Regions from separate parts of the Homo sapiens genome. Here region 2 is linked to region 1. The links come from fine-mapping of genetic effects on gene expression. A gene starts in region 1. The other region holds a variant in brackets. All regions are shown on one strand. Distances are from middle to middle.

Region 1 (8,368 bases):
CCAGATGGCTCACCTTGTTAGACATCAAAGGACTCATACTGGAGAAAAACCCTATGAATGCAATAAATGTGGAAAATCCTTCAGTCAGAGCTGTCACCTTGTTGCTCATCGGAGAATTCACACTGGTGAGAAACCCTATAAATGTAATCAGTGTGAAAGATCCTTTAACTGTAGTTCTCACCTCATTGCACACCGGAGAACTCATACTGGAGAGAAACCATACAGGTGTAATGAATGTGGGAAAGCATTTAATGAGAGTTCATCCCTTATTGTACACCTAAGAAACCATACTGGAGAAAAGCCCTACAAATGTAATCATTGTGAAAAAGCATTTTGTAAGAATTCTTCCCTTATTATTCATCAGAGAATGCATAGTGGAGAGAAACGCTTTATATGCAGTGAATGTGGAAAAGCCTTTAGTGGTCACTCAGCCCTACTTCAACACCAGAGAAATCACAGTGAAGAGAAACTGAATTGAATTTATGCGAGTTTTTCGTTTCTTGTACATTTGACAACACATTGAGGAAAACCCTATAAACATAATCAAGAGGGGACATTTTTCATTAAGAGTTCAGTAAGACTTCTCCCACATTATTTACTAGAAAATATCATCTTAGAAGAAACCCCATGAAGGAAAAGAATAGGGAAAAGCTTTCAGCAGTTATTTAGCCCTTACTCAAAATCAGATAATTAACAATGAAGGAAACTCTAAACTCCCCTTATGGTCTACCAGTAATTCATACTTGAGGACCATGACTGTGGGGAATGAGGCATCTTTTAGCAAGAGCTCTCACCAATTGTAGATTGGTGTGAATTGCTAAGGGAAAAACCTTATGCAGAGAAAAGTTTTTGACTGGAAATACACTGTTTTGCATCAAGCTGGAGTACTGGATGGAAAACTCTACAATAACATTTTGTGCATAATTGTAGAAATACAGATTTTGTTGTTATAAGGGGAGGGTCTGGGTGCCCAGGAGTAGAATATGAAGTGCTAAATCTGAATGTAAGAAAAATAATAGTATTGAATGGGGTATTTACTGTTGATTAACCTCCTTAGAGAAAATTAATGAATGAGATGACTAACGGTAGAAAAGTTATTGCCTAGGAGTGTGAGACTGATGTTGCTGGACAGAAAGTGATCCTTAGCCCAGTGTGTCAGCGTCCATTGTTACTCATCACTGCATTGTTGGGCAATTAGTTTGTAATTTGTTTTAGGCAATCACTATAAATTATAATTATGGACACTGCATCAGTATACATAACATGAAGGAATAAAAAGGATACAGAATTGTATATACATACTTACTGTAACACATCTAAAAAAATGTATATGGGTAAGGACCTGAAAGATCCATGGAAAAGTTAACCCAGTTGAGATTTTTAAAAAGTTTTACAAATACATATAACACTTATGTGCTGGGCTTTCTTTTAAATGCTTTCCAAGTGTTAACTTGTTTAGTCCCCTTTACTCTGAGATAGGTACTGTTACCCCAGTTTTACAAATGGCTAAGCTGAAGCAGAGATGTTGAAGGATCCTACCTAAGGGGCACAACTAGTAAGGGAGTAGAGCTGAGATTGGCTCCAGAGTTCTTGTTTTCAGCCACCATTTTATGCTGCCTCTCCAGTGATTTTTTTTCCCATTTTCTTCAGTGTTTCTATAGCAGAGATTTGATAATAAAAAGAAAATCCTAAACAATGAGAAATAAAGTTACCTGGTTTCTCTGTCTCGAAGGATTTATAGTAACATGAGAACTAGTATCCCTTTGGAATATGAAGTCTGTGTTGGACATTCAGAATCACTGCATTTTCTGGGACCTGAGTTCCCTAGAACTTTGCTGCCTGCAACCCCAAGGATAACAGGGCAGCAGGGCCTGGAGGACTTGCTGGAGGACTGGGCAAGTCCCTTGGTGGGTTTAGAATGCCACTTACAGAGCAGAGGGCAGGGGTGTTTGTTCCTTTCCATAACTAGACACCACTGCACTTCAGAGCACCATTACCCAAGGTTTACCTTGAATTCGGTCTTTTATTTTTTTGAAATCTTCTGCAGATGAAAGGCTTACTTGAAGGAGCAGGATTCAGAAGGGAAGAGAGCTAGCCAGTCCACCTAGAGTAATGAAGTCTCAGTGTTCACAGGGGAAAAGGGGAAAGATGGATCAGAAGACTTGGGTGGCTTCTCTCCAGTTCATAAGTATTTCTAAAACTGGGGGCCAAGGATCCTTCCTGGATAGGCTTCAAGGGTATTGAGTGGAACTTGGGCTCATAAAGCTCATCTAATTTTTAAAGGGCCCATGGCTTCCCAGTGGTTGAGAAATGATGGCCTAGTGATGTCATTGGGAGGCTGTTATTTTCACCTTCTGACTCTTCTAGCTTGGGCTCACTTAGGTGTGTAACATTTGATTGTAGTCCTTTCAAGGCCTGACACATTAGTGGTCACCTGATAAATGTGGCAGGGGCAAGTTAGTTATTGATGGATTTTTTTTTTACATGATTTGTGCAAAGGCCCTTGGAGAGAATGAAGTTAGCAGTATTATCTCATCTTGGAGAAAGCAGCATAATATATCCAGAATCATACTACCAGTAGGATGTGGATATTGTATTCTAATAGCCAGAGTGAATCCAAATTATCTGATTTAGAGATTCCAAAGGATTTCATAAGTCATATGCAATATACCACAAGCATCCTGGTAACTTATAACCTTATTACTAAGATTATTATCTTGAAAAAATTTCTAGGCCGGGCACCGAGGCTCATGCCAGCATTTTGGGAGGGACAGGAGGATTGCTTGAGCTGAGGAGTTCAAGGCCAGCCTTGCAACGTAGCAAGATCCCATCTCTGTTTAAACAGATAAGAGTTTTTTTAATGTCTTAAAGGGCCTCCTGGCAGGGCACAGTGGCTCACTCCTGTCACCCCAGCACTTTGGGAGGCCAAGGTGGGTGAATCATGAGATCAGGAGTTCGAGACTGGCCTGGCCGCCAACATGGTGAAAGCCCATCTCTACTAAAAATACAAAAATTAGCTGGGTGTGGTGGCAGATGCCTGTAATCCCAGCGGTTCCAGAGGCTGAGGCAGGAGAATCGTTTGAACCCAGGAGGTGGAGGTTGCAGTGAGCCAAGATTGTGCCACTGCACTCCAGTGTGGGTGACAGGGCAAGACTCCATCTCAAAAAAAAAAAAAAAAAAAAAAAAGGGCCTCCTGTTGGTCAGGTCACATCACGAGTCAAAAGAAAGTCCCAGACTTCTGCTTCTTCCTGGAAGTATTCCCTTCCTCTCACCTATCATGCACAGCCTGGACAGTATTGATTTCAGTGGTCCCTAACATCCAGCACTCCCAGGTCCCCTCTGTCTCCCTCATACATGACATAGTTCATTGCCTTTTTTGAGCCCGTCTTCTATTCCTCCCATCTCTGAAGCCTAGGGCCCACTTTCAGTCATCAGGAGTCCCCCTTTACCTTCCTGCTGTGGGTCTCCCCTGTGCACATTGCCTCCCTTCTAAGGGTGACTGCTTTCCTTCCACTTTCTTTTCTTTCTTTCTTTGTGCAGTGGTACGATTTTGGCTCACTGCTACCTCTGCCTTCTGGGCTCAAGTGATCTTCCTGCCTCAGCCTCCCGAGTATCTGGGACTACAGGTACACGCCACCATGCCTGGCTAGTTTTTGTTTTTGTGTTTGTTGTTTTATTTTTTTGAGACAGAGTCTTGCTCTGTCGCCCAGGCTGGAGTGCAGTGGCATGATCTCAGCTCACTGCAACCTCCACCTCCTGGGTTCAAGTGATTCTCATGCCTCAGCCTCCCAAGTAGCTTGAACTACAGGTGTGCACCACCACGCCCAGCAAATTTTTGTATTTTTAGTAGAGATGGGCTTTCACTGTGTTGGCCAGGCTGGTCTTGAACTCCTGGCCTCAAGCGATCTGCCCACCTTGACCTCCTAAAGTGTTGGGATCATAGGCGTGAGCCACCGTGCCCATTCCTTTTTTCCTGAACATTTTCCAAGTGAGGTTGTTGGAAATCACGGATGGGGAACTATGCATGCGGAGGGCTGACTGTAATTGATTTCTTTCTGCCTCCTCACTAATCTGCACACTGCAGGCAGGGACCTGGTCTCATCATGCCTGCACCTCCAAGCACTGCCCTCTTACACTGTAGTCTCCCCATTGGTCAGCATGGTTCCATGAAGGAACTCCATTATCACAGCAAGGACTGACCTCACACTGGTGGCTCCAAGTCACTGCCCAAACATTCTGAAGGGAGTAGAACTTCTTGATTCCTCAGATAAATAGAGGACAGATGCTGGACTGTAGCTAAGTATTTCCTTTCATCTACGGGATAAAATACTGATAATTTGAGAGTGATGGACAAGGTTCAGAGTGGTTTCCTCATTTTGTTTTTGTTTTTAATGGAATGCCAACTTCATTTATGCTTGCCGTATGCAGATGGACTCCATCCCACTGGAAACATAACAGGCTTACCAGGTAGCTTCAACCACTGGTTTTATGTGACTCAGGGAGAATTGAAAAGCTGTTTCAGGGGAGATAAAAAGAAGGTAATTACATTTCACCGCAAAAAGTTTTCTTTTCAAGGCAGTAAACGGTCACAACCACCCAGAAACATCACCAAAGAGCCCAAAGTGTTCTTTCATAAAACCCAGTTGCCTGGGATTCAAGGGGCTGCCTCGAGATCCACGGGTGAGTCATTGAATTCCTCATTCAGTGGAGTGAGAATCGTAGCCTGGAGTCCTCTTATCTGCCATGTGAATGTGTACTGTGTGCTTGCTGGTAGAAAGGTCCATAAAATAGAGTATAATTAGATAAACATTTGCTTGGAAATTAGATCTTATGCTCTTCACTCTCTGTTAACTGCTTTCTCTTTAGGGATTGCCACTTTCTTCTCTTTTTCATTTCACTTTAATAAGCGCACACAAAAACCTTGATCCCATCCAGATTACACAGGTATGCCTGTCTGACTTGAATTTGGTGCACATTTGGCAGTAGAGCATGCAAGTCTAGACACAGAAGGTTTGTGAGTGTACAGAATTCTTTTTTTTCTTTTTTTTTTTTTTGAGACAGAGTCTTGCTCTGTCGCCCAGGCTGGAGTGCAGTGGCGCGATCTCGGCTCACTGCAAGCTCCACCTCCTGGGTTCACACCATTCTCCTGCCTCAGCCTCCCAAGTAGCTGGGACTACAGGCACCCGCCACCACGCCAAGCTAATTTTTTGTATTTTTAGTAGAGACAGGGTTTCACTGTGTTAGCCAGGATGGTCTTGATCTCCTGACCTCATGATCCGCCCGCCTCGGCCTCTCAAAGTGCTGGGATTACAGGCATGAGCCACCATGCCCAGCCGAGAATTCTTTATAAGCATTTTCTATGGTTCCCTTCTAATTTGAGTACTAGAGGATGTTTGTTTATCTTATAACAGCAAAACCAACCCCGACAATCTTTGAAGCTCAGCAACCCTTTGTGGAGATATATGATGCTTGTAAATAATCTCCATTCCATGCAAGGGAAATGCTGTCTGTGTGATACATTTGCATGTAATTTGTGTCCGAGGAAAGGACACTATTGTTGGTTCCCTGGCCTCTCTGCCTGGCTCTCTGATCCTTTTTTTTTTTTTTTTTTTTTTTTTTTTTTTTTTTTTTTTGAGACGGAGTCTCACTCTGTCACCCAGCTGGAGTGCAGTGGCGCAATCTCGGCTCACCACAACCTCCACCGCCGGGTTCAAGCAATTCTCCTGCCTCAGCCTCCTGAGTAGCTGGGACTACAGGCGCGTGCCACCATGCCCAGCTAATTTTTGTATTTTCAGTAGAGACGGGGTTTCACCATGTTGGTCAGGCTGGTCTCGAACTCCTGACCTCGTGATCTGCCTTCCTCGCTGGGATTACAGGCATGAGCCACTGTGCCCAACCCTTGCTGACCTTCTAATGAGGTCGTAGCCCCTTCAACTCTAAGTCTCTCCAGGTCCTTAATTTGGGCAGAGATTTCCCAACTTGTATGACTGCAAAAGGAGACCAGAAACCAAAAGTATCCTGTTCCTAAAGGTCATTCTTCATGACAGGAAGCACCAGGTGCAAAAAGAACAGCAGGCTCACCAGGCTTCTGCAAATTAACCCACACATTGCTGCCAGGCATTGGGAGGAATGTATTAACACATCCCATCTTAGATATTTGGAAGCTGTGTGTTCGGCGTCCTTCTCTAATGCTAAGTTATTTCCTTGTTTTCCCAAGTTCATCTTAAACCATCTTAAAGTCTCTTCTTTTTGATCCCCTTTGATGGCCTTTTAGCTGCATCCCCTACGAACCCCATGAAATTCCTGAGGAATAAAGGTAAGCCAAGGGATCTGGGAGGGCGGGTGGACCCGCAACATTCCTGAAGCTGTCGTGATGTGTGGCTCCAGAGGGTGCTGGCTGGTCACCAAGGAGCCTGCACACGTGGTGCCTTCATGTGTGTTAGACAAGGTGCCCCCTCTGGAGGGGGATGCGCAGTGACACCGCTTGGGGCAGGTGAGAAGGTGGCTCAACTCCACGGGCTGATGTTGTAGTGAGTAGAGCACAGGCTGTGTCTGAGATCTCTTTGTGGAACACACAAAATGCATGGGCACACACAGCGGCCCTGTCAGCAGCCTTTCTAGCAACTCTCCCCACTGTGGCTTGTCCTGGAACCTCCTCAACACCTCTCGCTTCAGAGTCCTCCAAAGCAGAAGGCACCTTGTGTCCTGCTGCTGCTCCCGCCCCAGAGCATCCTTCCTTCTCCTCTGCACATTTGCTAAGTGCCTGCAACAGGGCGGCTTCTGAGTCAGCTCCCCCACCACCTACCCATCTCCACTGCTTTCACATGTAGCCAGCATTTTATTTAATCACATATGCTGAGTGAGACATGCAGACACAGAAATGACTGTCATGAAGGAAGAAGCCTGATACTCACGGGTCCCTAGAAGCAGGAGTCCACACAAGGAAGCACCAGGGTCTATCAGAAGGCAAAGGGAGCCAGGAAAGTGTGAGCAAAAGCCTTTATTCTGGGCCGGGTGCGGTGGCTCATCCCTGTAATCCCAGCACTTAGGAAGGCCGAGGTGGATGAATCACTTGAGGTCACGAGTTCGAGACCAGCTTGGCTAACATGGTGAAACCCCATCTCTACTAAAAATACAAAAATTAGCCAGGAGTGGTGGTGGGCACCTGTAATCCCAGCTATTTGGGAGGCTGAGGCGGGAGAATCGCATGAACCTGGGAGGTGGAGGTTGCAGTGAGCTGAGATTGGGTCGCTGCACTCTAGCCTGGGCAACAGAGCGAGGCTGTCTTTTTTAAAAAAAACAACTTTATTCTGGTTTTTACAGGAAGGCAGGTAGGGAAGGCGGGCTTGGGATCAGCTTGAGTGATTTGGTGGCTGTGGGGCATGGGGTATGTCCCTGGTTGTCTGGGACCTGGCCCTGGGGTGGTTGGGGGCAGGGGATGGTGGCCTGGAGCATGAGGGCTCCATAGAGATTGTTGGGGTGTAGGCTTTGGGTGTGTCGGCTTGCACATGAAAGGTGCACTTGCAGGCCAGGGTTTACTATCTTCAGGAATTGGCTGGACCTGGGAGGGCAGTCTCTTCAAGGGTCAGTTAAGGCCCCAAGATGTCAAAGTATCAGGAAATACAGAAAATAAAAAACGTGATGAATACATCCATCCACGCCAAACACATTATCAATCTTCCTAAAGCTCAGCTATGACTGTTTCACCTGCCCATTGACACCACCATCACCAAAGCACAGAGCTTGAGTCCTGGCTGGGGTATCAAAGGCCTGCACACTGGTCCTTCTTTTGACACTAGCTCGTTTTGTGTGCTGGTGCTAGAAGGTCACTGAGACCTCTGCCACCCCTGAGCTTCAGGTCCCAGTTGTAGGTAGGATAGAGACGGGACAAAATTGTTTATCTAATAAAGTTGATGGTCCGGGTGCAGTACAGGCTCATGCCTGTAATCCCAACACTTTGGGGGGCTGAGGTGGGTAGATCACCTGAGGTCAGGAGTTTGAGACCAGCCTGGACAACATGGTGAAACCCCATCTCTACTAAAAATACAAAAATTAGCTGGGCATGGTGGAGGCCAGCTACTCGGGAGGCTGAGGTAGGAGAACCCGGGAGGCTGAGGTTGAAGTGAGCAGAGATCGCACCACTGCACTCCAGCCTGGCAACAGAGCGAGACTCTGTAACAAAAAAAAAAAAATTATATGGAAAGATGTCTACCTTACTCATAGTAAGAATTGTGCATTGAAACTGCCAAGCTTAAATAATGAAGTTCGACAAATATGATTAAGTACAGAGTTTATTTGAGCACAAAGCTTGAGGATGTCCACCCACGAGACACTGACTCCAAACTAATGGGGACAGCATTTCCAAAGA
Region 2 (8,368 bases), 47 kb before region 1:
CCAGTTTGTGGAAGTTTGTTGTTTTGCTGTTTGCGATAAATCCTGCTGATGCTCTTTCTGTGGGTCTATACTACCTTTATGAGCTGTTATACTAACTGCGAAGGTCTGTGGCTTCACTTCTGAAGCCAGCAAGACCACGAATCCAACGGGAGGAATGAACAACTCCAGATAAGAACTGTAGTAACACTCGCCGTGAGGGTCCGCAGCTTCATTGTTGAAGTCAGCTACACCAAGAACCCACTGGAAGGAACCAATTCTGGACACAGGGGGACTTCGTGCACGCAGCACTCCATGAGACCATGAGCTTTCTCACCGGGCAGGAGGAGCCCATCCCCAGCTACACGTCTGGGCCCAGCGCTCTCGGAGCTGCTTTGGAGAAACATGCTTGGCGTTGTCTATGCCAATGGCCAGGCTCCTGGGACTCTACAGGTTTCTCCAGGTAAGTACTCAGAGCCGTACCCTCCCCTAATATTTGCTGTGGTATTGGCCACAATGGGGGTGACGCTGAGGCCCTACCACGGAGGGTCCTGGCTCCCCGCCAATGCCCTACAGCCTGACGCCATCCTCCCCCTCACCATGACCTCTCTGTAAGAGAATGGTGATCGCTGCTGCATTCACCAGGACACTGAGATTGAGGGAACTAGCAGTGACACGTTGCAGCTCACCCAGCACTGGGGCGCTGAAGCTGGGTTTTGAGTCCAGGCCATAGGGCTTGTGCCGCCAGCCTCCACACGGCCCCGCCCCGCTGGGGCCTCCTGACTCTCAGGCCCTCGGGTGTCATTCCCATAATAGTAGCTATGTCTAGAGGCAACTTTTTTTTTCTGTTTATTTTATGTATGTATGTGGGTGTATTGAGATGGAGTCTTGCTGTTTCCCAGGGTGGAGTGCAGTGGCACGATCTCAGCTCACTGCAATCTCCGCCTCCCGGGTTCAAGCGATTCTCCTGCCTCAGCCTCCCGAGTAGCTGGGTTTCCAGGCGCCCCCTACCACCTCCCGGCTAATTTTTGTATTTTTAGTAGAGACGGTGTTTCCCCACGTTGGCCAGGATGGTCTGGAACTTCTGTCCTTAGGTGATCTGCCCACCTCGGCCCCACGAAGTGCTGGGATCACAGGTGTGAGCCACTGTGCTGGGGCATTTTAATTTTTTTAGTGATGGGGTCTCTGTCGCTCAGGCTGGAGTGCAGTGGCATGATCACGGCTCACTGCAGCCTCGATTTGCTAGGCTCAAGCAGTCCTCCGGCCTGAGATATAATCCACATACCGCGTAACTCACTCATGGCTTTTGGTATGTTCGAGTTGTGTAGCCATCCCCACAGCCAATTTGAGAACATTTTCATCACCCCACAAGGAAACCCCAACCCCTTTAGCCAGCAGTTTCCATCAGCTCCACCTGCCGGCAACCACTAATGTATGTTTTGTCTGTACAGATTTGCTTTTTCTGGATACTTCCTATAAACGGAATCATACGCTGTGTGGTCCTTTGTGACTGGCTTTTCTCACTAAATATATTTTCAAGGTTCATCCACGTTGCAGCCTGTGTCAGAGCGTCGTTCCCTTCTATTGATTAATTTTCCATCATAGGCTGGGTATAGTGGCCCTGTGGGAGGCCAAGGTGGGAGGATTGCTTGATGTCAAGAGGTCAAGACCAGCCTGGGCAACATAGGGAGACTCCATTTCTACAGGAAAAAAAAAAAAAAATTAGTGGCATGCAGCTGTAGTCCTGGGTACTCAGAAGGCTGAGGCAGGAGAATCACTTGAGTCGGGGGGCGGGGGGGGTGGGTCAAGGGTGCAGTGAGCTATAATCGTACCACTATAATCCAGCTTGGGCAACAGTGCAAGACCCTGTCTTAAAAATCCGTTGTATGAATAGAGCATGTCGTGTGTATCCATTTATTAGTTGATGTATATTTGAACTGTTTCCATTTTGGGCCTACTGTGAATAGGGCTGCTATGAACATTTATGTATCCGTTTTTGTGTGTATGTTCAGTGTGTTTTCAATTCTCTTGGTTGTATGGGTAGAATTTCTGGGCCAAATGTTCATGCTATGATTAACTATCTGAGGAGCTGCTGGAGTGTTTTCCAAAGCAGCGCACCATTTTACATTCCCACCAGCATTGTATGACGAGTCCAATTTAATAGATTCATGTTCCACTGAGAAACCTGTAAATTTGGGTTTACAGGATTCCTCTGCCCTTGAACGCCTTAAATTTGCAAAGTTTGCTGGCCTGCTGGGGGAGAGGCCTGCCTTCCTACCTGTGAAGCAGGGGGCCCTGTAAATCACAGAACAGGTTGGAAGGGTTTTCCTGGGGCGGTGTGAATGTTGGGGCCACAAAGAAAGCTCACCCCTTCACCCCTTACTCCTTCAGGGTGGGTTGTCATGTATTGGGGAGTTTATTCTGAGGTGTGACACTTCAGGTATGGGCTTGATCGTACGATCAATTTAGTCCAGTCCTATCCTGATAAAAAGGAGAGTTGATTTCTATAGAACCTCTGCAAATAACCGCATAGCTATTCTAGGTGCTTTTAACCCCAAAGTATCAAGCCAGGCTGATTTTTTTCCAAGAATTCACCTTGATTACTTCCCACTTGGATTCTTACATAAAATGCTTCTGAACTAGAAGTTTCTATATGTAGACTTTCTTTTCTTTCCTTTTAATTCAAGCACATTTAAAGGATTAGAGACTCAATTTTTTTTTTCCTTTTTGAATTTTTTTGAGACGAAGTCTGACTCTTGTCGCCCAGGCTGGAGTGCGGTGGTGCGATCTCGGCTCACTGCAACCTCTGCCCCCTGGGTTCAAGCAATTCTCCTGTCTCAGCCTCCCAAGTAGCTGGGACCACAGGTGCCCGCCGCCATGACCGGCTAATTTTTGTATTTTTAGTAGAGATGGGGTTTCACTATGTTGCCCAGTCTGGTCTCAAACTCCTGACCTCAGGTGATCCACCCGCCTCAGCCTCCCAAAGTGCTGGAATTACAGGCGTGAGACACTGCGCCTGGCCTTTTTTAAAACAAAACAAAACAAAACAAAACAAAACTCTCCCTGTGTTGCCCAGGCTGGCCTGCAACTCCTGGGCTTGTGATCCACCTCAGCCTCCCAGTGTTGGGTTTACAGGCATGAGCCACTGCGTGCAGCTGCAACTGCATTTCTTGACTGCAGCTCAAGAAGCTGTTTTCCTGTACCTGTAGGGTTGCCAGATAAAACAGTACCCCCAGTGAAATTTGGTTTTCAGATAAACAATGAATAGTCCTTTTTAGTAGAATTTGGTCCCAAATATTGCACAGGACATACAAGACATACTTATGCTAAAATATTAGATGAATTTATCTGAAATTTAAACTTAATTGGGTATCCTGTTTTTTTATTTTCAAATCTGTTAGCTCTACCTGTTGCGTCAGCCTTATGGGTCTGTGTAAACCAATCAGACCAGAGCACCGTTCCGTTCAGACCCCATAACCTTTGCATAGCCTATTTCCTTACTACCCTCTGGCGGTAGGAGAATGTTTTGCACCCACACGAGGAGCGTGTTAAAGTCTCTGATCCAACAGACCCCAGAGACCGAGCAGTTTCATCCTGTGCCTCAGCCACAGGTCAGAAGCAAACACAGACACAAAACCTCGTTGACCCCGATTTCATAGAACTTTATCTTCCGGGGCACGAAGAGTAGTCTCTTCATTGGCAAATCGACAAGCAGGCAAAAACTGACAAAGATCACAGCGTGGCCAAACAACACAAGTAGGTTCCGAGTCATTGCCACTGCCAGTGAAGAACTGTCCGTCCGCGCTGTGTGAACCGTAACTAGAATCCGAACCCCAGGCCCGGCATGGTGGCTCCAGCCTGTAACCCCAGAGTTGTCCACGCTGTGGAAACCGGAACTAGAGTCCGAATCCCAGGCCCCGCACGGTGGCTCCAGCCTGTAGCCCCAGAGTTGTCGGCGCTGTGCAAACCGGAACTAGAATCGGATCCCCAGGCCTGCTGAGGCAGGAGGATCACGTGAGCCCAGGAATTTTAAGACCAGGCTGGGAAACATAGACCCCATCTCTACAAAATAATTTTTTTTAACTGGGGGTGGTGGGTGGTGCACATCTGTAGTCCCCTGAGGCAGGAAGATCTCTTGAGCCCAGTAGGTGGAGGATGTAGTGAGCTGTGTTCCTGCCACTGCACTCTAGCCTGGGTGACAGT[A/G]AAACCCTGTCTCAAAAAAAACAAACAAAAACCCAGCTTGGCAAAGGAGCAGAAACGTAAGTTTGAAGTGGGCAAAACGAGAGGAATGAACATTAAGTTCAATTATTCCTTGGGGCTGGGTGCTGCGGCTTACAACTGTAATCCCAGCACTCTGGGAGGCTGAGGCAGGCCGATCACGTGAGGTCAGGAGTTTGAGACCAGCCTGGCCTCAAGTGATCTGCCCACTTCTGCCTCCCAAGGTGCTGGGATTACAGGTGTGAGCCACCACATCTGGCCTTTTTCTTTCTTCCTTTCCTTTTCTCCTTTTTTTTTTTTTCTGTGCCTGCTTGGCTCGCTCTCTCTCCCCTCCTCCATCCCTCCCTCCCTCCCTCCCTCCTCTCCCTCCCTCCCTCCCTTCTTCCCTTCCTGCCTGCCTTCCCTCCTGTTTCTCTGTCTGACTCTGTCTCTCTGTCTCTGTCTCTGTCTGTCTCTGTCTGTCTCTTCCTCTGTGTGTCTCTGTGTCTGTCTCTCTCTCTCTCTCTCTGTGTGTGTGTCTCTCTTTCTGTGTGTGTCTCTTTAGAGTAGGGGGTCATACTGTGTTGCCCAAGCTAGTCTCGACCTCCTGGGCTCTAGCAGTCCTCCCACCTTGGCCTCCCAAAGCCCTGGGATGTACGTGAGCCACCATGCCCAGACTTATGTGGGAATTTTTTTTTTTTTTTGAGACGGAGTCTCATTCTGTCACCCAGGCTAGGGTGCAGTGGTGCGATTTCGGCTCGCTGCAACCTCGGCCTCCAGGGTTCAAGCGATTCTCCTGCCTCAGCCTACCAAGTAGCTGGGATTACAGGCACCCACCATCATGCCTGGCTAATTTTTGTATTTTTAGTAGAGATGGGGTTTCACTATGTTGTTGGCCAGGCTGGTCTTGAACTCCTGACCTCAAGTGATCTGCCCGCCTTGGCCTCTCAGTGCTGTGATTATAGGTGTGAGCTTTCAGTGACAAAATTGGGGGACACACCCAGGGCCACCAGGGACGTGTGGGTCAACCTGGCTTTCTTTTGAACCTGGTGGTCAGCAGGTGCCTGAGCTGCTCCTCACCCCTCCCCATTGCCCTGGCCTCTTCCTGCACAGGTCAGCCCCTCCTCCACACTGGCCAGCCTCAGCGACAGGACCCAGTTCCCATCCTTCTTTCAGACCCTGCTCAGTCACCTCACGACCACCCATGCAGTGGTGCAGCTGATGCTTCACTTCCGATGGTCTTGGGTGAGCGTCCTGGCGCAGGGGGACGACTTTGAGCTGCAGGGCAGGTCTCTGGTCGTCCAGGAGCTGGGCCAGGCTGGGGTCTGCATTGAATTCCAACTCTGCATCCCCACCCGGGAGTCCCTGAAGATGAAAAACATCATCTGGCTGATGGAGAACTGTACGGCCACCATCATCCTGGTTTTCCTTAACAGCTAGCACTTCAGACTCATCCTGCAGTGCCTGGCAGGCCGAGGCATCCTGGGCCAGGTCTGTGTCAGCTGGGACACTCTGCACATGGCGCTGGTCCTGACTGTGCCAGTGCCTTCTGGGTTCTGCAGGGCTCATTCAGCCTCCTGCTTTGCAACAGCCAGCCCCCCGACTTCCCTGCGCCTTGCCAGGACCCCAGAAGACATGTTCATATGGAGATTCTGGGAGGTCACCTTCAAGTGCACATAGCCCCATAGCAGCTGGGGGCCAGCAGGGAAAAGCACAGCGGCTGCAGGAGTCCAGTTCTGCTCAGGAAATGAGAGTCTGAGGGTTGAGCACTACCCTTTCCAGAAGGAAAGCAAAGTACACATCGCCTACACAGTGGTCTATGCCATCGCCCAGGCCCTGGCAGGCTGCAAGCATGGGGACCAGGGGTGTGCCGATGCCTGGGACTTCCAGCCCTGGCTGGTGAGAGGCGAACGTGTGGAGTGGGGCTGAGCATGGTGGCTCACGCCTGTAGTCCCAGTACTTTGGGAGACCAATGTGGGAGGATCATTCGAGCCCAGGAGTTCAAGATCAGCCAGGGAAACACAGTAAGACACTGAATCTACAAAAAAATTTTTAAATCAGCCAAGCATGGGCTGGGCACAGTGGCTCACGCCTGTAACCCCCACATTTTGGGAGGCAGAGGCAGGTGGATTACGAGGTCAGGAGATCTCGAGACCATCCTGGCTAACACAGTGAAACCCCATCTCTGCTAAAAATACAAAAAATTAGCCAGGCGTGATGGTGGGCGCCTGTAGTCCCAGCTACTCAGGAGGCTGAGGTAGGAGAATTCCTTCAACCTGGGAGGGCAGAGCTTGCAGTGAGCCGAGATTACACCACTGCACTCCAGCCTGGGTGACAGAGCGAGACTATCTTTAAAAAAAAAAAAGTCGTGATGGTGCACGCCTCTAGTCACAACTACTTGGAAGGCTCAGGTGTGAGGATCGCTTGAGCCCAGGAGGTTGAAGCTACAGCAAGCCATGATGGTGCCACTGCACTCCAGCCTGGGCAACAGAGTAAGACCTTGTCTCAAAAACAAACTGTGGAGTAGATGATTCAGGGAAGGGGAGACAGCAGGAAACTCACTTGGTCTCCTGGTGGGGAGGACAGGGGCAGTGCTCCTCAGTGAGGATATCTTGTATTCACAGCCCTAAGCCACATCTTAGCAGGAGCACTGGACGAAGATTTTTTTTTTTTTGAGACGGAGTTTCGCTCTGTCCAGGCTGGAGTGCAATGGTGTGATCTCAGCTAACTGCAACCTCTGCCTCCTGGGTTCAAGCAATTCTTCTGCCTCAGCCTTCTGAGTAGCTGGGATTATAGGCATGTGCCATCACGCCTGGCTAATTTTGTATTTTTAGTAGAGATGGGGTTTCACCATGTTGGTCAGGCTGGTTTTGAATTCCTGACCTCAGATGATTTGCCCACCTTGGCCTCCCAAAGTGCTAGGATTACAGGCATGAGCCACCGTGCCGGGCTGAGGAATTTTTTGTTTTGTTTTGTGTTAAGACAGTGCCTTGCTTTGTTGTTCAAGCTGGAATACAGTGATGCATTCACAGCTCACTGCAGTCTCAACCTCCTGGGCTCAAGCGATCCTTCAGCCTCCCGAGTAGCTGGGACTACAAGCATGCACCACCACGCCCAGCTAATTTTTGTATTTTCACCATGATGCCCAGGCTGGTCTCAAACTTCTGGGCTCAAGCGATCTGTCCACTTTGGGGTAAGTGTTGGGATCACAGGCATAAGCTACCATGCCTGGCCAGGATGAGGGGTCTTAAGTCCATGCTAGGTTTGTGACTGAGGGATCAGGATGTCTAGGTGTTCAGGGACTGACCTGTGTAGGTCCCGCCAGGATTTTACTCCACTTGGAGTGTGATGGGAAGGCCAAGGAGGAAGTGTTTGCTCAGACGGAATCCCTGGAGCAGGGGCCACACTGTGGCTTTTGTGCGTTCCTTCCTCCGTGGAAAAAAAAATTCTTAATTCAATTTTACCATTGCCTTGGTCTAAAGATGAATATATCCTGGGTTGGACTCATTATTATATGTTCATTATTACTTTTTTTTGAGACAGAGTCTTGCTCTGTCGCCCAGGCTGGAGCGTAGTGGCATGATCTTGGCTCACTGCAACCTCCGTCTCCCGGGTTCAAGTGACTCTTCTGCCTCAGCTTCCTGAGTGGCTGGGATTACAGGCGTGAGCCACCACGCCTGGCTAATTTTTGTATTTTTGGTAGGGACGGCATTTCACCATATTGGTCAGGCTGGTCTTGAGCTCCTGACCTCGTGATCTGCCTGCCTCGGCCTCCCAAAGTGCTGGGACCACAGGCTTGAGCCACCGTGCATGGCCCATTAATTACTTTTTAATTTTTTTCTTTGCTTTTACAAGCAGTTAACATTAGAACATTTTCATGGGACCCTGCAAATATCACAGCCCTGGGTCTCCCGTGCCTCATGGATACGTTGGCCCTGCCTGAGGCAGCCCCTGCTCACCACGGTGGCTGAGGACCTGATGCATTTTGCACAGGCCCTGGGACTGGCCCTGCCCATCTACAGTGTCATCCATCCTTCCCCAGCTGCTTCGTCCTCTCAAGAACGTGCATTTCAAGACCCCTGATGGGACAGAGATCATGTTTGATGCCAACGGAGATTTAATTACAGAATTTGATGTTGTCTATGGACAGAAGACCACTGAGGGCTGATTCCACTTTGTCCACATAGGCATAGTC

What was found.
Region 2: its variant is fine-mapped to the expression of C19orf18 in putamen (GTEx, PIP 0.99).

What each region holds. Positions count from the first base shown.
Region 1 is chr19:57,970,411-57,978,778 of GRCh38, reverse strand. C19orf18 (chromosome 19 open reading frame 18) reads left to right here and starts at 4,245. Exons shown (of 6, transcript NM_152474.5): 1 at 4,245-4,467; 2 at 4,576-4,680; 3 at 6,275-6,316. The coding sequence starts at 4,347. ZNF606 (zinc finger protein 606) reads left to right here. Exons shown (of 7, transcript NM_001348022.3): 7 at 1-1,703. The coding sequence ends at 478.
Region 2 is chr19:58,017,200-58,025,567 of GRCh38, reverse strand. It overlaps the pseudogene VN2R19P. Among named protein-coding and RNA genes, the nearest start is that of ZSCAN1, 13 kb to the left of the region's middle. The variant A/G (reference allele first, on the strand shown) is at 4,180.